Linked DNA regions of Homo sapiens. The protein of the gene in region 1 interacts with the protein of each later gene in a pairwise test. Each region holds a gene or a part of one and is shown on either strand. Other genes may lie near its edges.

What was found.
Region 2: the proteins of EYA2 (region 1) and AATK interact in a two-hybrid assay, tested with the Homo sapiens proteins (one study listed by BioGRID and IntAct).

What each region holds. Positions count from the first base shown.
Region 1 is NC_000020.11:47,069,269-47,081,692, forward strand, and holds part of EYA2 (protein phosphatase EYA2), read left to right. Parts: intron 1-2,916; coding exon 2,917-2,984; intron 2,985-4,889; coding exon 4,890-5,067; intron 5,068-12,424. UniProt on the Homo sapiens protein: Functions both as protein phosphatase and as transcriptional coactivator for SIX1, and probably also for SIX2, SIX4 and SIX5.
Region 2 is NC_000017.11:81,119,929-81,132,352, reverse strand, and holds part of AATK (serine/threonine-protein kinase LMTK1), read left to right. Parts: intron 1-58; exon of another isoform or gene 59-308; intron 309-398; exon of another isoform or gene 399-451; intron 452-1,147; coding exon 1,148-1,292; intron 1,293-2,731; exon of another isoform or gene 2,732-3,195; intron 3,196-3,803; coding exon 3,804-3,883; intron 3,884-4,442; coding exon 4,443-4,561; intron 4,562-4,682; coding exon 4,683-4,770; intron 4,771-5,792; coding exon 5,793-5,926; intron 5,927-6,397; exon of another isoform or gene 6,398-6,476; intron 6,477-6,979; exon of another isoform or gene 6,980-7,077; intron 7,078-7,338; coding exon 7,339-7,423; intron 7,424-7,504; coding exon 7,505-7,626; intron 7,627-9,009; coding exon 9,010-9,159; intron 9,160-9,529; coding exon 9,530-12,152; intron 12,153-12,269; coding exon 12,270-12,417; intron 12,418-12,424. UniProt on the Homo sapiens protein: May be involved in neuronal differentiation.

The DNA.
Region 1 (12,424 bases):
GGATCACCTGAGGTCAGGAGTTCAAGACCAGCCTGGCCAACATAGTAAAACCCCATCTCTACTAAAAATACAAAAAATTAACTGGGCATAGTGGTGGGCACCTGTAATCCCTTGGGAGGCTGAGGCAGGAGAATCACTTGAACCTGAGAGGCGGAGATTGCAGTGAGCCTAGATTGCGCCTCTGCACTCCAGCCTGGGTGAGAAGAGCGAGATTCTGTTTTTTAAAAAAAATCACCATAAAGCTTCAGTAATAAGGATAGGATGGAATTGGTATAGGATAGATAAATCAGTGAAACAGAATAAAGTCCAGAAATAAACCTTCTCATTTATGGTCAGTTTATCTTTGGCAAATGTACCAAGTAATTCAGTGGGGGAAGAAATGGATACCCCTTCTCCATGATGTGTTTATATCATATTTCATACTTATATCAAAACATCTCATGTACCCCATAAATATATACACCTACTGTGTACCCACAAAAATTTTAAAAAATAATAAAATCAGTGGGAGAAAGGATAGACTTTTTATAGTGGTCCTGGAACAACTGTGTGTGTGTATATGTATATATACACACATATACATACATATATATGCACATATATATATATGAAAAGATGAATTTAAGTCCTTAATCCACACTGTATACAAAGATTAACTTAAATTGGATCATAGACCTAAATACAAGAATACTGTGAAATTTCTAGAAGAAAACACAAGAGCAGTTCTTTGTGACCTTGAATTAGGCAACAAAAGCAAAATGCATCAAAGAAAAAAATCAACAACCTACAATCTTTTGCTCTTCAAAAGACACCATTAAGAAAAAGACAAGCCACAAACTGGGAGATAATATTCACAAATCATGTATCTGATCAAGGACTTGTGTCCAAGATATATAAAGAACTCTTATAACAGTAATAAGAGGCCAAACCTAATTTTTTAAAAAGATTTGACTAGGGTTTGATGGGAAAAAGATTTGAGTAGATATTTCATCAAAGAAGATATGTGAATGGCTAAAAAGCACATGAAAAATGCCCAACACCATTAGTCATTGGAGAAATGCTACTTAAAACCACAGTGAGATACAACCACATACTTCGTAGAGTGGCTGTAATCAAGAAGACTGAAATGACCAAGTGCTGGAGAATCGAGAACTCTCGTGCATTACCAGTCAGAATGTAAAATGGCACAGCCACTTAGGAAAACAGTTTGGCCATTTCTTTTAAAAGGTAAACATATGCTTACCACACAACTCTGTAATTCTACTCTTAGGGATTTACCCAAGAGAAATGAAAATATATATCCATACAAAGACTTGTATGTGAATGCTTATATTGCATTATCCATAATAGCCCAATATTGGATGTTGTACATCTATGCCATTGTGCATTGTTGTTTAATGGGTACATAGTTCCAATTTTACAAGAAGAAAAATGTTCTAAAGATGAATGATGGTGATGAGTACCCAATAATGTGGATGTAGTTAATGCCACTGAACTGTACACTTTAAAATGGTTAAGAGGGTAAATTTTATGTTGTATATATACCACAATTTTTTAAATAAATAATTTTTATTTTTTATTTTATTTACTGTTTTCTAGAGACAGGGTCTTGCCGTGTTGCGCAGGCTGGAGTGCAGTGGTGAGATTGTAGTTTACTGCAGCCTCAAACTCCTAGGTTCAAGCAATCCCCCCGCCTCAGCCTCCCAAGTAGCTGGAACTATAGGCATGCGCCACCACACCTGGAATTTTTTTTTTTCCAAGATGGAGTCTTGCTCTGTCACCCAGAGCTGGAGTGCAGTGGCACAGTCTTGGCTCGCTGCTACCTCCGCCTCCCGAGTTCAAGCAGTTCTCCTGCCTCAGCCTCCCTAGTAGCTGGGATTACAGGCACACACCACCACGCCTGGCTAATTTTTGTATTTTTAGTAGAGACAGAATTTCACCATGTTGGCCAGGTTGGTCTCGAGCTCCTGACCTCCTGATCCTCCCGTCTCAGCCTCCCAAAGTGCTGGGATTACAGGTGTGAGCCACTGTGCCCAGCCAATGTTTTAATTTTTTTGTAGAGACAACATCTCACTATGTTGACCAGACTACTAGAGTGGCCATAATCAAGAAGACTGAAACTACCAAGTGCTGGAGAATCTAGAACTCTCGTGAATTCCTAGTAAGAATGCAAATGGCACAGCCACTTTGGAAAACAGTTTGGCCATTTCTTTAAAAAGTGAAACACTTAAATGACCAAACTCCGGGGCTCAAGTGATCCTCCCACCTCAGCCTCCCAAAGCATTGGAATTACAGAAAAATCTGAGGCCACCACACCTGGCCTCAAATTTTTTAAAAACATAATTATTAAGGACCAGGATCTGGGTAGTGGGCACTATCTCACTTATTTCTCACCATAGCCCTTTGAAAAGGACACCGTTTATTTTCTTCATCTATCCAGGAAATTGAGGTTCAGAGAAATTTGGTAACCAAAGTCACAGGTTCCATCCCAGCCTGTCAGACCTCAAAGACCCCACCTGGCCATGGTACCCTCCTCCTGCATGTTCCTCTCCGACTGTAAGAAACCTAACCTGGCTCTTGGGTCTGGGCCGCCAACATGCCATCCGGACAGAGGAAGATCCAGAGACTTAGGGGTCACGTGAGCCATAGCCACGGCCGCATCAGCAAGCACTTGGAAGCACCCAGGAGGCCGTGGTGATGCTGGTGGTAGGCGTCACCAGAGGATTAGTGTCAACAAGTCTCACCTGGGTTGCTTTGGGAACGCTGGTGTGAGGCATTACCACTAGGAACCAGAGCTTCTGCCCAGCTGTCACCCTTGAAGCCACATGGAGGGAGGTTCATGAAATGCTAACAACTGCTTTAAAGAGAAAAAAAGACAAGAACCCTAACCTGTACCCCTGTTCCTCCTTCCCACAGGCACAACAGGGTTCTATCAAGGAGGAAATGGACTGGGCAACGCAGCCGGTTTCGGGAGTGTGCACCAGGTAGACATGGCTCCCTCCCGATTCTTTCCTCAGTTCTTTCTGGAAATATTCCCCTTACATCAGGGCACCCAGAGAGCCCACGACACACACAATCCCCATTGGGAACCTGCCTCTTAGTCCCTGGGTTTGGAGACTACAGGGGCTAGATTGTGCAAAAGGCTGCTGGAAGGACACAGTATACAGGCGGAGACGTAGGAATTGTTAGAAGATTCCTGAGATGTCATGGAGATCTACAAGTATGTTCCATCTTGACCTGGACTCAGGACACCCATTGACTGTTGAATCTGATATATATCAATACAAATGGGTGGGTTCTTTCACCAGACCATGGGCTTCTCAAGGGGGACCGTATATCTTGCTCACCTCTGCATCCCCAGTGGTGAGAGCCCAGCACACAGTGGGGGCTTTATAAATACTTGTTAAATAGAGCAAAGTCAACTCTATATAGGTAAATGTTGGCTAGTACTTTGATTCTCTTGGTGTCACTTACAAAGTGAATTAAGAGTTCGCATCTGCTCAAAGTGTGCAGTAACTCTGCTGTGTGTACACCTTCCCTGTACACCTAAAATTATTTCAAAACAAAAGGTTCACCTGCTTTCAGGCTACCATTTAAAACAGAACCACCCTGGGGTAGATGGGCTTTAGGAATATTTAACATATTTAGATCTGAGGAATACGCAATTTCTTTTCCAGTGAGAATCTAAATAATTTAAAACTTAGCAAATGTAAAAATTGTTTCATGTATTTTTGCATTATTTCTAATGTACTATGTACATAGATAAAATACTTATAAATAAAACAGTACTTTTTAAGATGTGGTTCTTAACCCTCCATTTCACCATTAAATCTGTGTTTTTCAAAAACACTGACCACCCCCGCAACCCCCACCCCCAGGAACTCTGACTCCCAGCTCTGGGGTGGGGCCCAGGAAGCAGAACGTTCCATGAGTTCCGTGCAGGGTTGAGAAGCACTGGTTTGGTGATAGTGCGGCAGGATATTTGAAACAATGACTGTTGGAGAATTGGGATCGCTGGTCTGCTTAAACAAAGCTTGATCAAAGGTGATTGGCAGCTATTGAATTGATCTCCATGACTCCCTCATAGAATATTCTGGACCCCTAATGCTGTGTAGGTGCTGCTGTATTTGCACCTCCTCCCCATGAACATAAAATGTCACCTAGTCTCCTGGGTTTGTGTGTCGTGTGGGTGTGTGTGCGGTCTTCTAGGTTTGTGTGTGTGTCGTGGGGGGGGGGTGCAGTGTGGTCTTAATTGTTAATGCATTTGTTTATTAATTTAACCAGTATTTGTTGAGTTACTGCATATACCAGGCACTGTTTCAGGTGCAGAGGATACAATAGTGACCAGGACAGGTGCCATCAGGGCCACGTCTATATCCCTTAGGGTGGCCTGTGGACCTCCAGGTGCCAGCATCTGCATGCCTGGGCCCAAGGGGCTTTTCTAGAACCAGTGCACGGGGCAGGCAGGAAGTGCCTGGGAATTAAAGCCCCCTGGGTGCAGCTCTCAAAGACCAACAAGTTGATGTATAAACCCCTCCACTCCCTTGACCCGTGGGAGAGGCAGTTCTGAGATGTGGATTTTAGACCATCTCAGCTTTTCCTCATAGGGCTCATCTCTGGTCACTACCACAGAAGCACCTATGCAGGCTGCTCTCCCGCATCTCTCTCACTTCCCCGATCCCCTGCTGGTGTCTCCTTCACCTTCCAAACAGCCTCCTTGCACTTGAATCCTTGCCCCGGGGTCTGCTTCTGGGAAACCAAAATGAAGACAGTTTCTGCCCACAGAGAGCTTTTATTCTAATGGTGAGACAGAGTGGCCAGGCTGACCAACGGCCCGAGCCCAGAAAGGCTTCCTCACATATGTCCTTGGTTTGTTTTTCTCTTCCCAGGACTATCCTTCCTACCCCGGCTTCCCCCAGAGCCAGTACCCCCAGTATTACGGCTCATCCTACAACCCTCCCTACGTCCCGGCCAGCAGCATCTGCCCTTCGCCCCTCTCCACGTCCACCTACGTCCTCCAGGAGGCATCTCACAACGTCCCCAACCAGAGTTCCGAGTCACTTGCTGGTAGGTGCAGTCACTGGTGGGGCCATTCATGGCTGTGGTCTGAGAGCTTCTATGAAGGAGGGACCCGCACATGGGTCCCAATTGTAACAAACAGGTTACCCAAGGGTCATTCATGGATGTGGCCTGAGAGCTTCTCTGAAGGAGGGACCTGGATATGGGTCCCAGTTGTCACAAACAGGCTCCCAAGGGCTAAATCCATCTCTCAGACATGTTTTGTTGGCCTGTTTGTGCATGTGTTTAATTGCATTTACGTTTAAAAGTCAGAAAATTTTATAAATACCTAAAAATTCTATTTTCTGGCTTCTTTTGAAAGAAGATCTGGCCATAGTAGCCACATTCCCAAGGAACACCACTTGGTTAAAACTAAGTGTGTCTGCTCTTTTTAGAAAGGACACACCCAATTCCACATCTAGCTAGCTTACCCCATGTTCATTACTGCCTGGCCCATGTAGGCCTTGGAGTTGATGAACCCTGGTAGTATTTATAATATTACCAGCTGGGCACGGTGGCTCACACCTGTAATCCCAGCACTTTTGGAGGCTGAGGCGGGTGGATCACCTGAGGTCAGGAGTTCGAGACCAGCCTGGCCAACATGATGAAACCCCATCTCTACTAAAAATACAGAAATTAGCCTGAGTCATGGCAGGCACCTGTAATCCCAGCTACTAGGGCGGCTGAGGTAGGAGAATCGCTTGAACCTGGGAGGCGGAGGTTGCAGTGAGCCGAGATCGCGCCATTGCGCTCCAGCCTGGGCAACAAGAGTGAAACTCCATCTCAAAAAATTAAATAAATAAATAAAATACCCATCTGTTTCGTGCTGAGCACATACCTGTGTGGTCTTCTCTAATCATTTACTTATATATTTATTCAACAAATATTTGGTAAGCTCCCACTGCATTCCAGGCCCTCCCTTTAGTTTGGGAAATAAAGTGCAGTGTAGAGTTAAGCTTTGCAGACAGGAATCAAATAATCATACAAATATCTCATTACAAACTGTGATAAGGAGAGGCATAATCCTCACAAAAACAGGTTTATATTATCCCCACCCTTTTTCTAGATAAGAACAATGAAGATGAGAGTGATAAGGAGCTTGCTAGTGATTGGTGGGGCTAGGATCCCAATCCCAGTTTGTTGGCCCCCATAACCAGCACTCCTGCTATGCACTGGCCATACACAGCCAGGAACTGTGTACACAGCCTGGCTGTGTACGGCCAGGAATATGTTATCTAAAATCCGTTTGAGAACAGAAGGGCAGAGGCTTTCAAATGTTGATTCTTTGTCTAAGAGGGGTTCAAGTATAGCGACTCAGGGTCCTCAAGAATTATACAATCCTTCAAAACATCCTTAAGCATGTTCATTTTTTTTTTCTTTCAACTTGTATTTTAGGTTTGGGGTACACATGCAGGTTTGTTACATGGGTAAATTGCATGTCGTGGAGGTTTAGTGTACAGATAATTTTGTCACCCAGATAATCAGCACAATACCCACTAGGTAGTTTTCCAGTCCTCACCTTCCTTCCATCCTCTACCCTCAAGTAGGTCCTTGGGTCTATTGTTCCCTTCTTTGTATCCATGTGTACTCAATGTTTAGCTCCCACTTATAAGTAAGAACATGTGGTATTTGGTTTTCTGTTCCTGTGTTAATTCACTTAGGATAATGGCCTCTAGCCCTATCCATGTTGGTTCAAAGGACATGATCTTATTTTTTATGGCTGCGTAGTATTCCATGGTGTATATATACCACATTTTCTTTATCCAGTTTGCCATTGATGGGCATCTAGGTTGATTCTTTGTCTTTGCTATTGTGAATAGTGCTGCAATGAACATACACATGCATGTGTCTTTATGGTAGAAAAATTTATATTCCTTTGGATATATACCCAGTAATGGGATTGCTGGTATATATCCAAATGGTAGTTTCATTTTAAGTTCCTTGAGAAATCTTCAGGCCGCTTTCCACAGTGGCTGAACTAATTTACATTCCCATGAACAATGTATAAGCATTCCCTTTTCTCTGTAACCTTGCCAGCATCTGTTATTTTTTGACTTTTTAATAATGGCCATTCTGATTGGTGTGAGATGGTATATCATTGTGGTTTTGATTTGCATTTCCCTAATGACCAGTGATATTATTTTTTCATATGCTTGTTGGCTGCATGTATGTCTTCTTTTGAGAAGTGTCTGTTCATGTCCTTTGCCCATTTTTTAATCGGGTTATCTTTAAGGATGTTTGTTTCTGATGGCACAATAGTTTTAGGAAACCCTTTTGATTAGCCAAGATTTTTTGGCTTCAAAAGACATAGAAAATCCAATTCAAACTAGTTTAAGAAAAAGCAAATGAACTTTTAGGCATATCTAACCTAGATGTACAGGGGTTTAGAGCTAGGTCCAGGTGTTCCAATGACAATGTTGAGACTTAGTTTCTCTCTTCCTTCTGGCTCTGAATTTTCCTGGGTTCGTTCCGTTCTCAGGCAAGCTCCTCCCCTATGGTGGCAAAGATGGCCACCAGCTACCCAGAGCTCAATCCTGTCTGCTAATCCATCCCAGCAAACATAGTTCCTCCTTCTTAGCCATTCCTGCAAAAGTCCCAAGTAAAGCTCCCATTGGCCCAGCTTAGGTCACATGCTCATCCCCAAACCAATCTCTGTGGTCAGTGGAATGGAATGCTGGGATGAAGCAGCAGACTTTGGGCTCATGCCTACGGCTGGAGCTAGAGTTGGGGTCAGCCTCACCTCAACCACCAGGGACTGAGAGTGAGGAAGAGGTGATCACCTCAAAAAACCTAGAGCATTGTAACTACAAGAAGACAGAAGAGACAATGGGTGAGCAAAAACAATAAATGTCCACAACCTTGATATGGATGCCACCTACACTATGAGCAACATGTGGCAGAGTCCATGTCCTGACCCCTCTGTGGTCACAGAACTTAGTATGTAACATCCCTATGCAACTAATGCACCAGCCTGTGGATTCATTCATTCATTCCCCAGACCTGCTATGCACATCTTCTCTTTTACAAGGTGGTTTTGGCTTATCAACATTAAATAACATGGCAGCAATACGTTAGAATGTCAGTAGATATCACTGAGTTTCGTTCCTTTGTCTTCTTTTCTGAAACCTACTGATGCTGTAGGGCTTTGCAGAAGCTAAGCTAGCACGATGGTGTGGAGACAGTCATCAACAAATATTAATTGGTTGATTGTTAGAAAAGGAACAATAGGGAAGACCCACCTGTTTTGTTCCTGGGGTTCTTGGTGTGGCTATTGATTTTAGCCCTTAAATTTTCCATCACTGGGAATGAGTGAGTTATCCTTGGTTTGATGACAAATGGAGACAATATGGCAAAGCATGTTAAATAAAGTCAACTTTTTAAAAGGTTTAGAGCTTGAGCATTGATTTTGGTCATTGTGATCTCATCCCAGAATATTTAATGATGCATAGTACCTATTTAATAACTTTCTTTGAAGAGTTTGAAGTTTAACAAAGTTTTTCTCTGTCATCATCTTGAATTATCTTTAGCCATCCTGATTTTCAGAATGTGGTTCTTCCGATCTCATTTCAACAAAGGAGATAAAAACAAAACATTGATGAGAAATTAGGGCAGAGAGGAACTATAAGCAGGAAACCATCGAGTAGATGCCACTATCCGTCTATAATTCAATGGTGAACTGAATGGCAAACGAAAAACTTACCTCCCCAGAATTTGAGTTTTGTGGGAAGGTTCTCTTCATTCCCATCAGGAGTGAATATAAAGGCTCATTGTGTCTTTGAAATTTTTCTGTCTTGTTTCCCTCTGTTCTTCCTTTATCCCTTGATCAAAGGTTCAACAGTAAGTGGTTGAGATGGTTTTTACTGTGTGTCTAACAAGCTGACATAAAATCTAATGACGTAAATAATGGTCAGCTGTAGCTGAGGTCTCCTGCCTCTTTTTCCTAGTGTTCACTGTAAAGGAATTTAAGCATATGTGTGTGCACATGTGCACGTGCGCGCGCGCGCGCACACACACACACACACACACACACACACACATTCATGCACTCTTTTTAAATTTCCCATAAAAACTCTACTTTTGAAATTATCCAGGATATCCTTGAGTGGTTGGTTCCAAACTCCAGAGGCTCTAGAGGTTTACTGACAGACAGATCACACTCACTGTGTGCACTGCCTGGATATAGTATTTTGGTGCTCTCACCACTCACATCCCCCATGCACCCCATCCTCGCCACAGGACACTCTGCATTGACATGCATTAATGTGTGTGTGAAGTGCCAACAATTTGCAGATGATTACAGGGCAATTTGCTGATATAGAGGGCAGAATCTGAACATCTCATGTTACTTAAGAGAAAAACCAAATCATTGGTTACTTAAGGATTTTTTTCTTTTTACATTTTTAAATATGATACAAATTATCTAAAAAGAAGTTGAAGGATTTTTTAACTTCTAAGATCAACTTCCTTTGCCAAGAGAAGAAGAATTTTTTTAATCTCTCAAGAAGAAATTGGGAAGGCTCTTCCGTGTAATTTGGCAACATCTAACAAAATTTAAAATGCATAGACCTTTTAACTCAACTATTCGACATCTAAGAATTTATCCGAAAGATAAACTTTGACCTAGGTACAAACACTTAAGTAAAAAGAATACTTATTTTTTTCACTGATTAAAAATTTATTAATACTATTATGCAAATAATTTTAGTGATAACCACAAGGGTTTTGTACTGTTAGTACATAAATACATACAAAAATGCATTTTGAAACTTCTTGTATCCCCTTTATCCTTTTCAATTTCTGTTTATGTTTGCTCTACAATATATATGATGGATCTGTGCAGTAGAAAATTTTTTGCTGATGAGTATGGTACAATCAGAAATGTTTGGAGACTGTATCAGTTTCTTCTTGCTGCTGTAACAAATTATTATGACCTTTGTGTCTTAAAACAACACAGTGATATTTTACAGTTCTGGAGGTAAGAAATGCAACATGGCTCTCACTGAACTAAAATTGAGGGGTCAGCAGGGTTATAGTATTGGAGGCTCCAGAGGAGAATCACTTCCTTGCCCTTCTACCTGCAGAGGCCACCTGCCTTCCTTGGCTCATGACCCTGCATCATTCCAGTTTCTACTTACATTGTCTCATCTCCTTCTCTAACTCCTGCCCCCGACCCCTTATAAGGACTGTTGTGATTCCACTGGGCCCACTCAGAGAATCCAGGATCATCTCCCCATCTCGAAGTCCTTAAGTCAGTCACATCAAGAATATTTATTTTTTTAAAAAAGAATATTTATTGCAGCAGCATCATAGCAAAAGGCTGGAAACAACCTGGATACCATGCCATTAACAGGAAACAGGTTAAATCAATCATGGTGCATCCACCAGTAGCATACTATACAGCTGTTAAAAAGAATAAGTTAGATATATTTGTGCTACTATGGGTTTCTCTTTGAGCTATTGTGATAGGTTAAAAAAAAAAAGCAGGAGGCAGAATTACATGGGTAATGTGAGCCTGAGTTTTTTAAAAGTTTAAGTGTAGCTTAATACCCATATTTACTCATATTCCATAAGGAATTTCTAGAAGGATGCAATAAGAACTGTTAATAGTCATTTTCTCTGGAGAGGAAAACAAGATCTGGAGTGAAAGGAAAAGACTGTATGTAACAGGCAATCTGTAGAACACTCCACCCAACAGCAGCAAATACACATTCTTTTCAAGTGCACATGGGACATTTACCAAGATAAATATTAATATCTTCTGGGCCATAAAACAAGTTTCAGTACCTTTAAAAGAATCAAGGCATACAAAGCATGTTCTCTGACAGCAGTGGAATTAAATTAGAAATAAATTTCAGAAAGATTTTTGGGAAGTTCCCAAATCTTCAGAATCTCAATAATATACATTTCAGTGACCCATGGGTCAAAGAAGAAATCAATGGGAAATTAAAAAGCACTTGGAACTGAATGAAAATGAAAACAAATATATCAAAATTTATGGAATGTCATTAAAGCAGTACTTAAAGGGAAACTTACAGCACGAAATACCTGAATTAGAAAAGAAGACACAATTACCACAGGTATCAGGTGAAGGAAGGGAGGGAGGGAAATGAGGGAGGGGGGAGGGAGGGAAATGAGGGAGGGAGGGAGGGAAATGAGGGAGGGAGGGAGTAAAGGGGAGTGGAGGGGAGGGAAGATTGGTCAAAGGATACAAAATTTCAGTTAATAGGAATAAGTTCAGAAGAACTATTGTACAATATGGTGACTATAGTTAATAAATAAGGTATTTGTATTAGTCTATCTTCATGCTACTGATAAAGACACACCTGAAACTGAGCAGTTTACAAAGGAAAGAGGTTTAATGGAGAACTCAGTTCCATGTGGCTGGGGAAGCCTCACAATCATGGCTGAAAAAAAGGAGAAGCAAGTCACATCTTACGTGGATGGCAGCAGGCAAAGAGAGAACTCGTGCAGGCGAACTGCCACTTTCTTAAAACCATCAGATCTTGCGAGACTCGTTCACTATCACAAGAACAGTGCAGGAAAGACCCTCCTTCTTAAAGAGACAAGGTCTTACTCTGTCACCCAGGCTGAAGTGCAGTGGTACGATCATAGTTCTCCGTAACCTCGAACTCCTGGGCTCAAGCAATCCTCCCTCAGCCTCTCAAGTAGTTGGGACTACAGGTGTGTGCCACCATGCGCAGCTAATTTTTAAATTTTTTGTAGAGATGGGGACTTGCTCCTCCTTGTCTTCGGCCATGATTGTGAGGCTTCCCCAGCCACATGGAACTGAGTTCTCCATTAATGCTCTTTCCTTTGTAAATTGTTCAGTCTCAGGTATGTCTTTATCATAATTCAGTCACCTCCCACTGGGTTCCTCTCATGACATGTGGGAATTGTGGGAGTTACAATTCAAGATGAGATTTGATGGGGACACAGAGCCAAACCCTATCAGTGTTATATACTTGAAACTTGCTGAGAGAGTAGATTTTAAGTGTTTTTAGTAAAAAAAAAATAAAAAATATGTGAATGTTAATTAGCTTGATTTAGCCATCCCCAATATATACATATATCAAAATATGTTGTACATCATAAATATACACAATTTTTATTTGTCCAGTTAACAAATCATCATCATCATCTACAGGGTTGCTGTGAAAATTGAAATAAAAAGGCCGGGCATGGTGGCTCATGCCTGTAATCCCAGCATTTTGGGAGGCACAGGCACGTGGAGCACCTGAGGTCAGGAGTTCAAGACCAGCCTGGCCAACATGGCGAAACCCCGTCTCTACTAAAAATACAAAAATTAGCCAGGCGTGGTGCCACACGCCTGTGATCCCAGCTACTCAGGAGGCTGAGGCAGGAGAAT
Region 2 (12,424 bases), on another chromosome or scaffold:
TCGTACTTGAGGAGCCCAGGCCTCCCCTCCCACTGCACCTGCCTGTCCTCGGACTCACCAGCCCGGGTGCTGGCCAGCATCCAGCTGGAAGTCCCTTGACTCCTCTGAGCCTCAGCTTCCCCACCAGGGCACTGGGGGTTGTGAGGAAGGACAGAAAGGCTGTACCAAGTGCTCAGGGATTGGGGCTGTCATTGTGTGCCTGGAGCAATTGCTTTCAGCTGGGCCCAGGACTTTGGAGACTTTGGCTCTCAGCGCAGGAATGTGCCCTGGACTTGGGGGTGGGGTATCCCCTATACAGGTGCAGCCTCTACATTTCAAAATAGCAGCCTGGCAGGGAGTGGCCCAGCCCTAGGCTGCACGGGGCCAGGCTCTTAAGGAGTTCTGGGAGCTCCGGAGGTGGTGTGGCCACCAGGTGAAGGTCCAAGGCTGCTGGGGCAGATGGCGGTGGCAGGTGGGCTGCCCAGGGTAAAGGTGGCCGGTTGGCTCTGGGCTCCCAGACATCCAGGAATGCTCCTTGTCCCGGCAGGGGTGGGGGCACTTAATTGCTTCTCCCACAGGACTGTGGGGCAGGGGGTGATGGAATTCCTGTCCCCGAAGCTGCGCCATGGGAGGGTGGGACCCCAGGCACAGCCCGGGGTGAGGGGCTGCTCGGGATGTGGGTGGCTGAGAGGTGCTGGGGGCTGATTCTGGATGGGCAGGGCCAGCTGGCCTGAGTGCCCTCACCTCTGTCCCTTGGTTCCCTGCCTCTAGACCCTCAGGCCCCAAGGTGGGGCTCAGCCTGGGCTGCCCGCCAGGGAGGGATGGGGGAACTGAGGCCAGGCTGAGGCGCTGGTGCCTACAGCTCATCGCGCCCTTTCTGGAGTCTGAGATGGGTCCTCTTGGCTCTGGGATCTGCCTCTGGCCCCTCATGGAACAACTGAGCCTCTGGTCGGGGGCGTGGGGGTCAGCAAGAGGAGACAGATGGAAGGGCAGTTAGCAGGGGTGCTGGGCCATTGGCCTGCAGGGGCGGTGGCTCCAACTCTGGGCCGAGCACCCCCTCCTGCCCTGCCCTGGGAGCTCGGCCCTGGAAGAAAGGGGCCTTTCCAGGCCCAGCCACACCCTTCCTTGACCTGCGAGAAGCCCCGCTCATGCCCGGCCCGGCCCGCAGGAGTTTGAGAATGCGGAGGGGGACGAGTACGCAGCCGACCTGGCGCAGGGCTCCCCGGCCACGGCAGCACAGAACGGGCCCGACGTGTACGTCCTGCCACTCACGGAGGTCTCCTTGCCCATGGCCAAGCAGCCTGGGCGCTCAGGTGAGGGCTGGGTGGGGAGATGGGGTGGCCTCCCTCCGGGGCCCAGGTGCTGGGCGTTGGGTGTGATCTGGGGAGACCGGAAGACTCAGCTCTGGAGTGGGGGCAGCACAGGGCTGGGAGTGGCCTGTGGGGTAGACGCAGTGTGCAGCCCTGGACTCCCTGTGGCTGCGTCACAGGCCGCACTGTGGGGCCAAAGGTGCATGTACCTCTTTCTCCTGGGCCTGGGGGCCGGCCAGGGGTTGGCAGGGTCCAGGACAGCCCTCGGCCTCCAGCCTCCCCTGCCCAAGGGGCTGCTATGCACAGGGACAGGGGTGGGCACGGGGCAGGGGTGGGCACTGGGGCAGGGGTGCGGGCTCTCTGGTCCTGGACATGGCCATGTGCTGGGGGCAGGGGCTCTTCTGCAGTCCAGGGATGCTTGACCCCAGATTCCTGCCCCCTTGAGCGCCAGCCCTTCAGGGACACGGGTTCCATTGTGCATGGCAGGAGGAGGGGCGCTGGTGGGGCCCGTGTGGGCGGGTGGTGAATTAGCCTTTCACTCAGGCTGCGAGGAGGGGCCGAGGGGTGGGGCTGACCCAGGAGTGCAGGTGCAGGCAGGGCCTCAGCCACAGCCTCATCTGCCCCCATCCTAGGGTCCTAGGCCGACCACTCACATGGGGCGGACGTGCTGGGGAGTTTGGGGGTGAATGGCCAGGCTTCAGGACCTCCCAGTTCTGTCTTGGAGCCTAGGTGGTGGGTGCGGGTCCCTCCAGAGCTATCAGATCTCAAGCCCCCTCCCAGGAAGCTTCCAGCCTGAGGCTTCCCCCATCACTGCCCACCCCCAGCTCCTCTGGGAACACAGAGGCAGGAGGGGTATCAGGCCAGTGGGAGGGGCCCCTGCCAGCCCTGTTGGGGCTCTGTTGGCACCAGGGCCTGTTACTGCGGTGCCATGCAGGCCACCTCACCTGCTCTGAGCCGTGCCTGGCTGGACCCTGAGAGCTGGCTATGAACTGTGCCTGGCTGGGCCCTGAGAGCCTAGCCTTCATCGTGGGCTGAGAGGCCCAAGGCACTGGTCTGGGACCTAGAGAGGGCCCCCAGCCCCCAGCTTTGGAGCCAAGGCCTCAACGCCTGTCCTACTCTGCCCCATCTCCTGGAGGACAGGTTCCCAGTTCGGCAGGAATCAGGGCTGGCACTTGAGCTCGAGTACATCTGTGGGCGGGCGCGGAGGACTGCAGCCACCCACTCAGAGCGTGAGGCCCTCGGACCTTCCCGGATGGCTGTGGGGGTCCCTGAGCCCTGTGCTGACCCTGCTGGGAGCTGCCAGGGACCATCCGAGGGGGTACTGCCCTTGGGTCCAGGGGCAGGTGTGTGCCTGGCCCCCGAAGATTCTCAGAGCCACCTCTGGAGGATTGCTGTGGGGACTGGGGTTGGCGAACAGGAGCCCGAAAGAAGGCACTGGTTACCTGTCTCTCTACTTTTGCAGCTCTGGTTTCAGTTTTCTGGGGGAGGAATGTGCTTCTAGGGAGGAGAGAGATTGGGGTGAGGTCAGAAAAGTAGCCCCAGAGGTCAGCGGGGAGAAACCTGGGCAATGGCCCCACCCGCTGGGGACCGCAGAGAAGGACGGCTGCCTGCTGCCTCCGGCAGTGCCCAGGGCCTCTGAACTGTCTCAGCACCCATGGTCAGGACCCCCACACTTGCTCAGGGACAGTGTGGGCCTGGGCGCCCCAGGGTGAGAGAGGGCCGCCCAGACAGGCTGGGCTCAGGACACAGCACCCGGTGGGCCCACACGCTCAATTCTGCCCTGCCCCGCCTCTACATTCTCTGGGTCTCCAGGCCCTGGAAGGAGCCCCCTCCCCCTGGGCTCTCCTGGCAGCCAGGCTCAGACCCAGGCCTGTCAGCCCTCTGGGCAGTTGACGTGGGAGCAGAATTCGGGGAATCCCTCGGGGCGTGGGCAGGCATGAGTGGGCTCTGCCAGCGCTGGCCCCTTCGTCCCGGGCCTCACTGACCCTTCCTCCCGCTGACCTCACCCGGCCTGGCCCTCGGGGAGAATGGGCCAGTGTGCTCCGTGCGGGGCCGTGCCAAGCAGCCCCCAACAAAGGAGCCTTTGGTGCGCCCGGCGTGGGATGCCAGCCTGCGGCAGGGTGGGGGTGGGCCGCTCCAGTGCCCTCTCTGTGCCGTGGCCCCAGCCTCTTGCTCAGCCACACTGCCTGCCTGGTGCAGCCCATGTGACGGGTCGAGCTCCGGGCCCTGCTGTCCCTGGCCGGGCTATCCCAGTGGCTTCAGGCACCTTCTCCAGACCTACCCAGAAAGATGCCCGGATGGATCCTGCAGCTCCGTGGCTTTTCTGGGAAGCAGCGGCCCCTGCTCTCAAGAGACCCTGGCTCCTGATGGTGGCCCCAAGGTTGCCAGCTGGTGCTAGGGACTCAGGACAGTTTCCCAGAAAAGGCCAAGCGGGCAGCCCCTCCAGGGGCCGGGTGAGGAAGCTGGGGGGTGCGGAGGCCACACTGGGTCCCTGAACCCCCTGCTTGGTTACAGTGCAGCTCCTCAAGTCCACAGACGTGGGCCGGCACAGCCTCCTGTACCTGAAGGAAATCGGCCGTGGCTGGTTCGGGAAGGTACGTGTCCCGCCTGGGAGGGAGGACTCCCGCCTGGGAGGCAGAAGGGACACAGGGCTGCAGACCTGCTCCTCCTAGGAGCCACCCCAGCCCCGACGGTCCCTTCTTCAGTCTCTGGGCCCTGCTGGACCCTTCCCCAGGGAGGTCCTCAGCATCTGGCTGCATCCCCTTCTCCCTAGGGGGTCCTGGGGTCAGAGGTACCTGGGGAGGGGCCCTGGGAGGGAGAGGAGCAGCCTCTTGCTCATGGCCTTCCCCTGACCTTGGCCTAAACGAGACACCTGGGTCCCTCTTCCTCACTTCAAACCCCCAGAGAGAGAGAGAGAGAGGGCAGCGGGGGACCTTGTGGGGAGAGTAACACGAAAGACTCAGAATATTACAGCCAGAGGGTTGCCGGGAGGGATCCGGAAGCCATACCTCACGCTGCAATGAGTGGACGGGGCACAGGAGGAGAAGTGTCCTGTCCTGGGGGCCGGCGTGGGGCGGGTGGGAGAAGAGTAAGGCCTGGAAGCCGGGGCCGGTGGAGGCGGAGCAGCCGTGGGTGATGCTGTCTGTCCCACAGGTGTTCCTGGGGGAGGTGAACTCTGGCATCAGCAGTGCCCAGGTGGTGGTGAAGGAGCTGCAGGCTAGTGCCAGCGTGCAGGAGCAGATGCAGTTCCTGGAGGAGGTGCAGCCCTACAGGTGGGAGGCCACCGGGCACAAAGGCCTGTGCTGTGCGGCCCCCTCCTCTCCCTCCCCTGCTCGGCCCGACTCCCCCTCCCCACCTCCTCCCAAGTCAGGGGCCGCCTGTCCACTCCCGCAGGGCCCTGAAGCACAGCAACCTGCTCCAGTGCCTGGCCCAGTGCGCCGAGGTGACGCCCTACCTGCTGGTGATGGAGTTCTGCCCACTGGTGAGCTGCTGCCCGGGGGGATGCTGGGGTCTTTGCTGAGCCGGGGCCCTCCCTTGCCCTGCCAGTGTCTGGTGCCACCCCCTCCTTGGGGGCCTCACATCCTCCCTAAAGCCAAGACCCAGGGACCCTGCCCCCACCACCTTCCAGAGGAGGCGATGGGGAGACCTAGCCTCACCAGGGAGGGACTGTGGGGGCTGGGCACAGAACAGGCCTGGGCTGGGGCTCCCTGCACCCCTGGGGAGCTGCCAGCTGCTTGGTCACCTGCTTGTGTGCCCTGTGGTTCAGGAGGAGGCATCCTGGGCCAACTGGGGGGGGGCACTGGCCCACTTGGGCTCCACGGCCTCACTCAGGCTTGCTTTTGCCATGGGGGGCTGGGCCTGGCCACTTCCCCAGGCTGCCTGGAGTTCTGGGCCTGCCCATCAACGCCCCCCGCCCCGGGGACCTGTCCCCCCCTCCCCCTGAGACCTGCCCATCAACGCCCCCCTGCCCCGGGGACCCGTCTCCCCCTCCCCCGAGACCTGCCCCCCACCCCCTTCCACATATGCAGCTCCTGCACTGAGCCGAGGCTGTCTGTGGCTGGGCTGGATCCCCTGCTGGCTTCCCTCGGGACAGGGGCCCTCACACACTGGCGTCTGGACTCCTGACGTTGACCGTCCCGGGGCTGGGCTTTCGGCAGGTCAGGGGCTGCCGGCCAACCCTCGACCACCAGCCCCAGACTCCATCAAGCAGATCCACTTGGGCCCTGTGTTTCTCTCTCTACCACAGGCCAAGGGACTCCTGCTGCCCGGGGCTGGCTGAGGGGCAGTGGAGAGGAAGCCTTCAGTCCAGCCCAGCCCTGGGGGACACGGCCCCCCTCCAGGAACTGCTGGGTGCTGGCCACTGTGCAGGGCACGAGGCTGCTCTGGGCAGCTGCTGTCCCTCAGCTGTGGGTAGGGGTGGAGGAGTTGGGGAGGTAGGTGGGGACCTCCCAGGGTGGCCAGCCCCCAGCCTGCTGGTGACTGCGCCACACCCCCTTTCTGCAGGGGGACCTCAAGGGCTACCTGCGGAGCTGCCGGGTGGCGGAGTCCATGGCTCCCGACCCCCGGACCCTGCAGCGCATGGCCTGTGAGGTGGCCTGTGGCGTCCTGCACCTTCATCGCAACAATTTCGTGCACAGGTGAGGGCGGGCGCGGGCCAGCGGCCGGGAAGCCCTAGGCCAGGCCCCTCCCCTGAAGGAAGGGCATAGGGCGGGTCCTGCCTCAGGGGGCTTGCGAGGACCGGCCAGGTTCATCTCATGCAGCATCAGACAACCACTATGCAGAGGGATTTTATGACGTTTTTGAAAAATTGGGAAGACAATGGTTTGACACCCACTTTGCAGGTTTAGACGAAGAGATGCGTACTGTCAAGCTGGCCTGTTCTCTGTCCCCGAGGCAGTCAGCCAGCACCCTGCAGCCCCGCGCCAACCCCACACTCTGCTAAGCCCTCGCTTTGGGGCTTGAGGGAGACAGACCCTGCTTCGAAGGACCCTGGAGGGAGGGTTCTGTCCTGCTTGGGCCAGGATGCCCAGCCCCTGGGGACCCCGGGGGGACATGCTGGAAGAAGTGGCGAAGGACACGTGGCCCCGTCAGCCCCAGACGCCGCACGGCTGTCCTCTCCAACAATATCCTGGTGCTGAGTGATGACTCAGGCGACTCCAGCATCAGTGATTTTGTTGAAGAGGGCAGCTGCCAGCCTCCCGACCTGCCTGCCGGGCCCCAGCTGCCCTGCCCCCAACCCCAACCCACCCCACTCCACCCCCTAGGCCCAGGACACATGGCCCTGTAGCGATCCCCTGGCACGCAGACATGGGTTTTATGTGGGGAGGGACAGGCTGGGTTGGCCTCTGTCCCCACCCTGAGTCCTGAGCACAGAAGTAATACGGCAGCTGTGGTAATATCTACCCAGTACCCTGTGCCTCCTCACACCCACGTGACCAGCCAGGCAGGGTTCAAAGCCAGCAGCCAAGGCAGGCTGGGTTGGAGGTAGTGCCAGGCGTAACCTGCATTCTTTCCAGACCCTACCCAACCCTGGGGCCAGTGGTGGCTCAAGTGAGAGTGAGCTCCAGCTCTGAGTGGGCATGGCAGGGCTGGACCCTAAAACTGGACTCCGGCAGCCGGCAGGACCCCTGGGACACTCCAGGCCTCAGTTTCCCCATCAATTCCCACCTCCTGGGGAGCCGAGAGTGATAGTGTAGTAGAGCTAGGAGGAGAGGGTCCTGGAGAAGCGTGGACCGGTCCGGGTGGGTTCCGGCAGGTTCTCACCCTCTCTAGGCCCCATTCTCCTCTGCACTGTAACATTTGAGGCCCACGCACACAGTCCCTCCCCAGGTCTCAGGGTTGGGCACAGAGTAGGGCCCTGGGCAGGGATGGGGGGTGGCAGTGTCTCCAACGCCCCTTCCAGCCTGGACTGTGAGCCATCCAAGTGTTGGCAAAGGACCCTGTGCTGGATGCCCCCGCCCGGCACACCCCACTGACCCTCCCCCTGCCCCCACCCGGCACACCCTGCTCACCCTGCTCACCCTGCCCCTGCCCCTGCCCCTGCCTGCAGCGACCTGGCCCTGCGGAACTGCCTGCTCACGGCTGACCTGACGGTGAAGATTGGTGACTATGGCCTGGCTCACTGCAAGTACAGAGTGAGTGGGGTGGGGTGGGCTGGGCTGGGCATGAGGGGCAGGGCCTGCGCCGGCAGGGGTGACCCGTCCCTGTGCCAACAGGAGGACTACTTCGTGACTGCCGACCAGCTGTGGGTGCCTCTGCGCTGGATCGCGCCAGAGCTGGTGGACGAGGTGCATAGCAACCTGCTCGTCGTGGACCAGACCAAGAGCGGGAATGTGTGGTGAGTGCGGCCCTGGTGGCACCGTGAGGGGCCGAGGCCGAGTGCCACCTGCCCACCCATGTCAAATCATGGCCATGAGTAGTGAGGTCAGGGGGCTGCCGGAGCCACCTGTAGTGGCCACACGCCAGCAGCCCAAGTGGCTGGTTGGGTGGCGACCCCACACCGGGGGAGATACCACCCTGACAGGGTGCCCCAGGGACCCCATGGTGGGGTCAAGGCATACGTACAGGGCCAACGGCCCGTCTTCAGCATGCCGGGGGGTCTGTCCTGAGACGGGGGCCTTGGTGAGTACCTGTCCCTGGGGAGAGGGTCTGGGTGGGGTGTTGGCTGCCTTCACGGGAGCGTAGGTCGGGCCGTGCCAGGCAGAGGGGCTGACGGTGGTGCTGGGATCTCCCACGGCCGCAGCCTGGAAGCCCCTATCCTGAGTGCCTAGCCCGGAGCGTTCATTCACACCTGGTGTAGACTCGGAAGGGGCAGGGCCGAGCCGCCAGGGGAGTGGTCCGCCCCGGGGTGGGCGCCCCTCCCTGCCTCACCTCTGCTGCTTCCCCAACCGCCCCCACCACTCCCGGGCTTTGGTCTGGCCGCCTTCTGCTTCTGGGGAACTCTCAGATCCCACGGGCCAGGCCCCCTCCCTGAGCTTTTGGGGCCTCCCCTAAGCCACTTGACTGCCCCATCATGGACACTGTCCCCTCCTCACCTCTCCACCAAGGTGCCCCTTCCTGGCCTGCCCACCCACTGCACGCTGGCTGGGGTCTCCAGTCACAGGGCTCTGGCCAAGGTCATGGTGACGTCTTGCCAAATCACCTCTGTCTCACTCTGCAGCCTCTTGGGACAGCCAGGGACCAAAGTGGCTGGGTGAAGCCACAGCCCACGGGGAAGGAGACCCCAGTTACCCTACCCGCCTGCACGCTCTGTGCACCCCTGCCTGTTACCCAGCCCTGCCCATGCTGGCCTGAGGCGTCCCCTCTCTCCCCTTCCTTCCCCCTCCCTCCCCCTCCCTCAGCCCCCTGCTGGTGCGGGCCCTACTCCGCTTTGGGCTCCACGCCCGCCCTCCAGCTCCCCCAGGGCAGCTCCCACACCGGGCAGTGTCTGGTCTTCAGTGCATCAGTGAATGAATGAATGAGTGGACAAGCAGATGGATTCGGCCAGCCCGGCCTTTATGTGCAGGCTCCACAGGTGCTGGGCTTGGGCCTGGCAGGGTGCACATTGCCTGCTGAAAGGACGCGCTGTCCTCAGGGAGGGGCGGCTGGTATGGTACCAGGCCCCGGTCCTGAGGCACTGGCGTGATGGCGGGAGCTGCCCCATTCGGCGCCCCGGGGATCCTGCGCGGTCCTTGCTGTGGCAGGCTGTGCCCAGCCCTGGCTCACGGCTGTCGCCCCACAGGTCCCTGGGCGTGACCATCTGGGAGCTCTTTGAGCTGGGCACGCAGCCCTATCCCCAGCACTCGGACCAGCAGGTGCTGGCGTACACGGTCCGGGAGCAGCAGCTCAAGCTGCCCAAGCCCCAGCTGCAGCTGACCCTGTCGGACCGCTGGTGAGGGCCCCACTGCCCTGTCCCGGACAGCCAGGCCGAGATGGGGTATCCTGATCCCCAGGCAGAGGCGGCTCACCCTGACCCCCTGGCGTTCCAGCCCTGCCTGGTCTCCCCTCCCCTCTGGTAGGGCCTCCACCCGCCACCTCTGCACCCCTGTGTACAGGGAGGGAAGGCTTAAGGATAGTGCCCAGCCCACCTCCTGCTCCCACGCTGCTGGGCTTGCCTTGGCAGATTTGGGGTGTCAATTAAGTGGGAGATACCCTTAATGCCCCCAAGACACTGGGAGTTAGGGGAACCCCCATCCCTGCTCCAGGGACGCGTTCCTGGCCAGCGTTGCCTCTGACGTGGCCCCCGGGGGACCTCCTCGCAGGTACGAGGTGATGCAGTTCTGCTGGCTGCAGCCCGAGCAGCGGCCCACAGCCGAGGAGGTGCACCTGCTGCTGTCCTACCTGTGTGCCAAGGGCGCCACCGAAGCAGAGGAGGAGTTTGAACGGCGCTGGCGCTCTCTGCGGCCCGGCGGGGGCGGCGTGGGGCCCGGGCCCGGTGCGGCGGGGCCCATGCTGGGCGGCGTGGTGGAGCTCGCCGCTGCCTCGTCCTTCCCGCTGCTGGAGCAGTTCGCGGGCGACGGCTTCCACGCGGACGGCGACGACGTGCTGACGGTGACCGAGACCAGCCGAGGCCTCAATTTTGAGTACAAGTGGGAGGCGGGCCGCGGCGCGGAGGCCTTCCCGGCCACGCTGAGCCCTGGCCGCACCGCACGCCTGCAGGAGCTGTGCGCCCCCGACGGCGCGCCCCCGGGCGTGGTTCCGGTGCTCAGCGCGCACAGCCCGTCGCTGGGCAGCGAGTACTTCATCCGCCTAGAGGAGGCCGCACCCGCCGCCGGCCACGACCCTGACTGCGCCGGCTGCGCCCCCAGTCCACCTGCCACCGCGGACCAGGACGACGACTCTGACGGCAGCACCGCCGCCTCGCTGGCCATGGAGCCGCTGCTGGGCCACGGGCCACCCGTCGACGTCCCCTGGGGCCGCGGCGACCACTACCCTCGCAGAAGCTTGGCGCGGGACCCGCTCTGCCCCTCACGCTCTCCCTCGCCCTCGGCGGGGCCCCTGAGTCTGGCGGAGGGAGGAGCGGAGGATGCAGACTGGGGCGTGGCCGCCTTCTGTCCTGCCTTCTTCGAGGACCCACTGGGCACGTCCCCTTTGGGGAGCTCAGGGGCGCCCCCGCTGCCGCTGACTGGCGAGGATGAGCTAGAGGAGGTGGGAGCGCGGAGGGCCGCCCAGCGCGGGCACTGGCGCTCCAACGTGTCAGCCAACAACAACAGCGGCAGCCGCTGTCCAGAGTCCTGGGACCCCGTCTCTGCGGGCGGCCACGCTGAGGGCTGCCCCAGTCCAAAGCAGACCCCACGGGCCTCCCCCGAGCCGGGGTACCCTGGAGAGCCTCTGCTTGGGCTCCAGGCAGCCTCTGCCCAGGAGCCAGGCTGCTGCCCCGGCCTCCCTCATCTATGCTCTGCCCAGGGCCTGGCACCTGCTCCCTGCCTGGTTACACCCTCCTGGACAGAGACAGCCAGTAGTGGGGGTGACCACCCGCAGGCAGAGCCCAAGCTTGCCACGGAGGCTGAGGGCACTACCGGACCCCGCCTGCCCCTTCCTTCCGTCCCCTCCCCATCCCAGGAGGGAGCCCCACTTCCCTCGGAGGAGGCCAGTGCCCCCGACGCCCCTGATGCCCTGCCTGACTCTCCCACGCCTGCTACTGGTGGCGAGGTGTCTGCCATCAAGCTGGCTTCTGCCCTGAATGGCAGCAGCAGCTCTCCCGAGGTGGAGGCACCCAGCAGTGAGGATGAGGACACGGCCGAGGCCACCTCAGGCATCTTCACCGACACGTCCAGCGACGGCCTGCAGGCCAGGAGGCCGGATGTGGTGCCAGCCTTCCGCTCTCTGCAGAAGCAGGTGGGGACCCCCGACTCCCTGGACTCCCTGGACATCCCGTCCTCAGCCAGTGATGGTGGCTATGAGGTCTTCAGCCCGTCGGCCACTGGCCCCTCTGGAGGGCAGCCGCGAGCGCTGGACAGTGGCTATGACACCGAGAACTATGAGTCCCCTGAGTTTGTGCTCAAGGAGGCGCAGGAAGGGTGTGAGCCCCAGGCCTTTGCGGAGCTGGCCTCAGAGGGTGAGGGCCCCGGGCCCGAGACACGGCTCTCCACCTCCCTCAGTGGCCTCAACGAGAAGAATCCCTACCGAGACTCTGCCTACTTCTCAGACCTCGAGGCTGAGGCCGAGGCCACCTCAGGCCCAGAGAAGAAGTGCGGCGGGGACCGAGCCCCCGGGCCAGAGCTGGGCCTGCCGAGCACTGGGCAGCCGTCTGAGCAGGTCTGTCTCAGGCCTGGGGTTTCCGGGGAGGCACAAGGCTCTGGCCCCGGGGAGGTGCTGCCCCCACTGCTGCAGCTTGAAGGGTCCTCCCCAGAGCCCAGCACCTGCCCCTCGGGCCTGGTCCCAGAGCCTCCGGAGCCCCAAGGCCCAGCCAAGGTGCGGCCTGGGCCCAGCCCCAGCTGCTCCCAGTTTTTCCTGCTGACCCCGGTTCCGCTGAGATCAGAAGGCAACAGCTCTGAGTTCCAGGGGCCCCCAGGACTGTTGTCAGGGCCGGCCCCACAAAAGCGGATGGGGGGCCCAGGCACCCCCAGAGCCCCACTCCGCCTGGCTCTGCCCGGCCTCCCTGCGGCCTTGGAGGGCCGGCCGGAGGAGGAGGAGGAGGACAGTGAGGACAGCGACGAGTCTGACGAGGAGCTCCGCTGCTACAGCGTCCAGGAGCCTAGCGAGGACAGCGAAGAGGAGGCGCCGGCGGTGCCCGTGGTGGTGGCTGAGAGCCAGAGCGCGCGCAACCTGCGCAGCCTGCTCAAGATGCCCAGCCTGCTGTCCGAGACCTTCTGCGAGGACCTGGAACGCAAGAAGAAGGCCGTGTCCTTCTTCGACGACGTCACCGTCTACCTCTTTGACCAGGTGGGCCGCCGCCACCCGGGGTCTGCCCGGGGCTGGGGGTCGCGCTCCCGCAGGAAGGGGTGGGAGCGGCCGCGGCTCCTGGCGGCCGAGCTACCTGGTGCTCTCTGATTCCTCCAGGAAAGCCCCACCCGGGAGCTCGGGGAGCCCTTCCCGGGCGCCAAGGAATCGCCCCCTACGTTCCTTAGGGGGAGCCCCGGCTCTCCCAGCGCCCCCAACCGGCCGCAGCAGGCTGATGGCTCCCCAAATGGCTCCACAGCGGAAGAGGGTGAGCA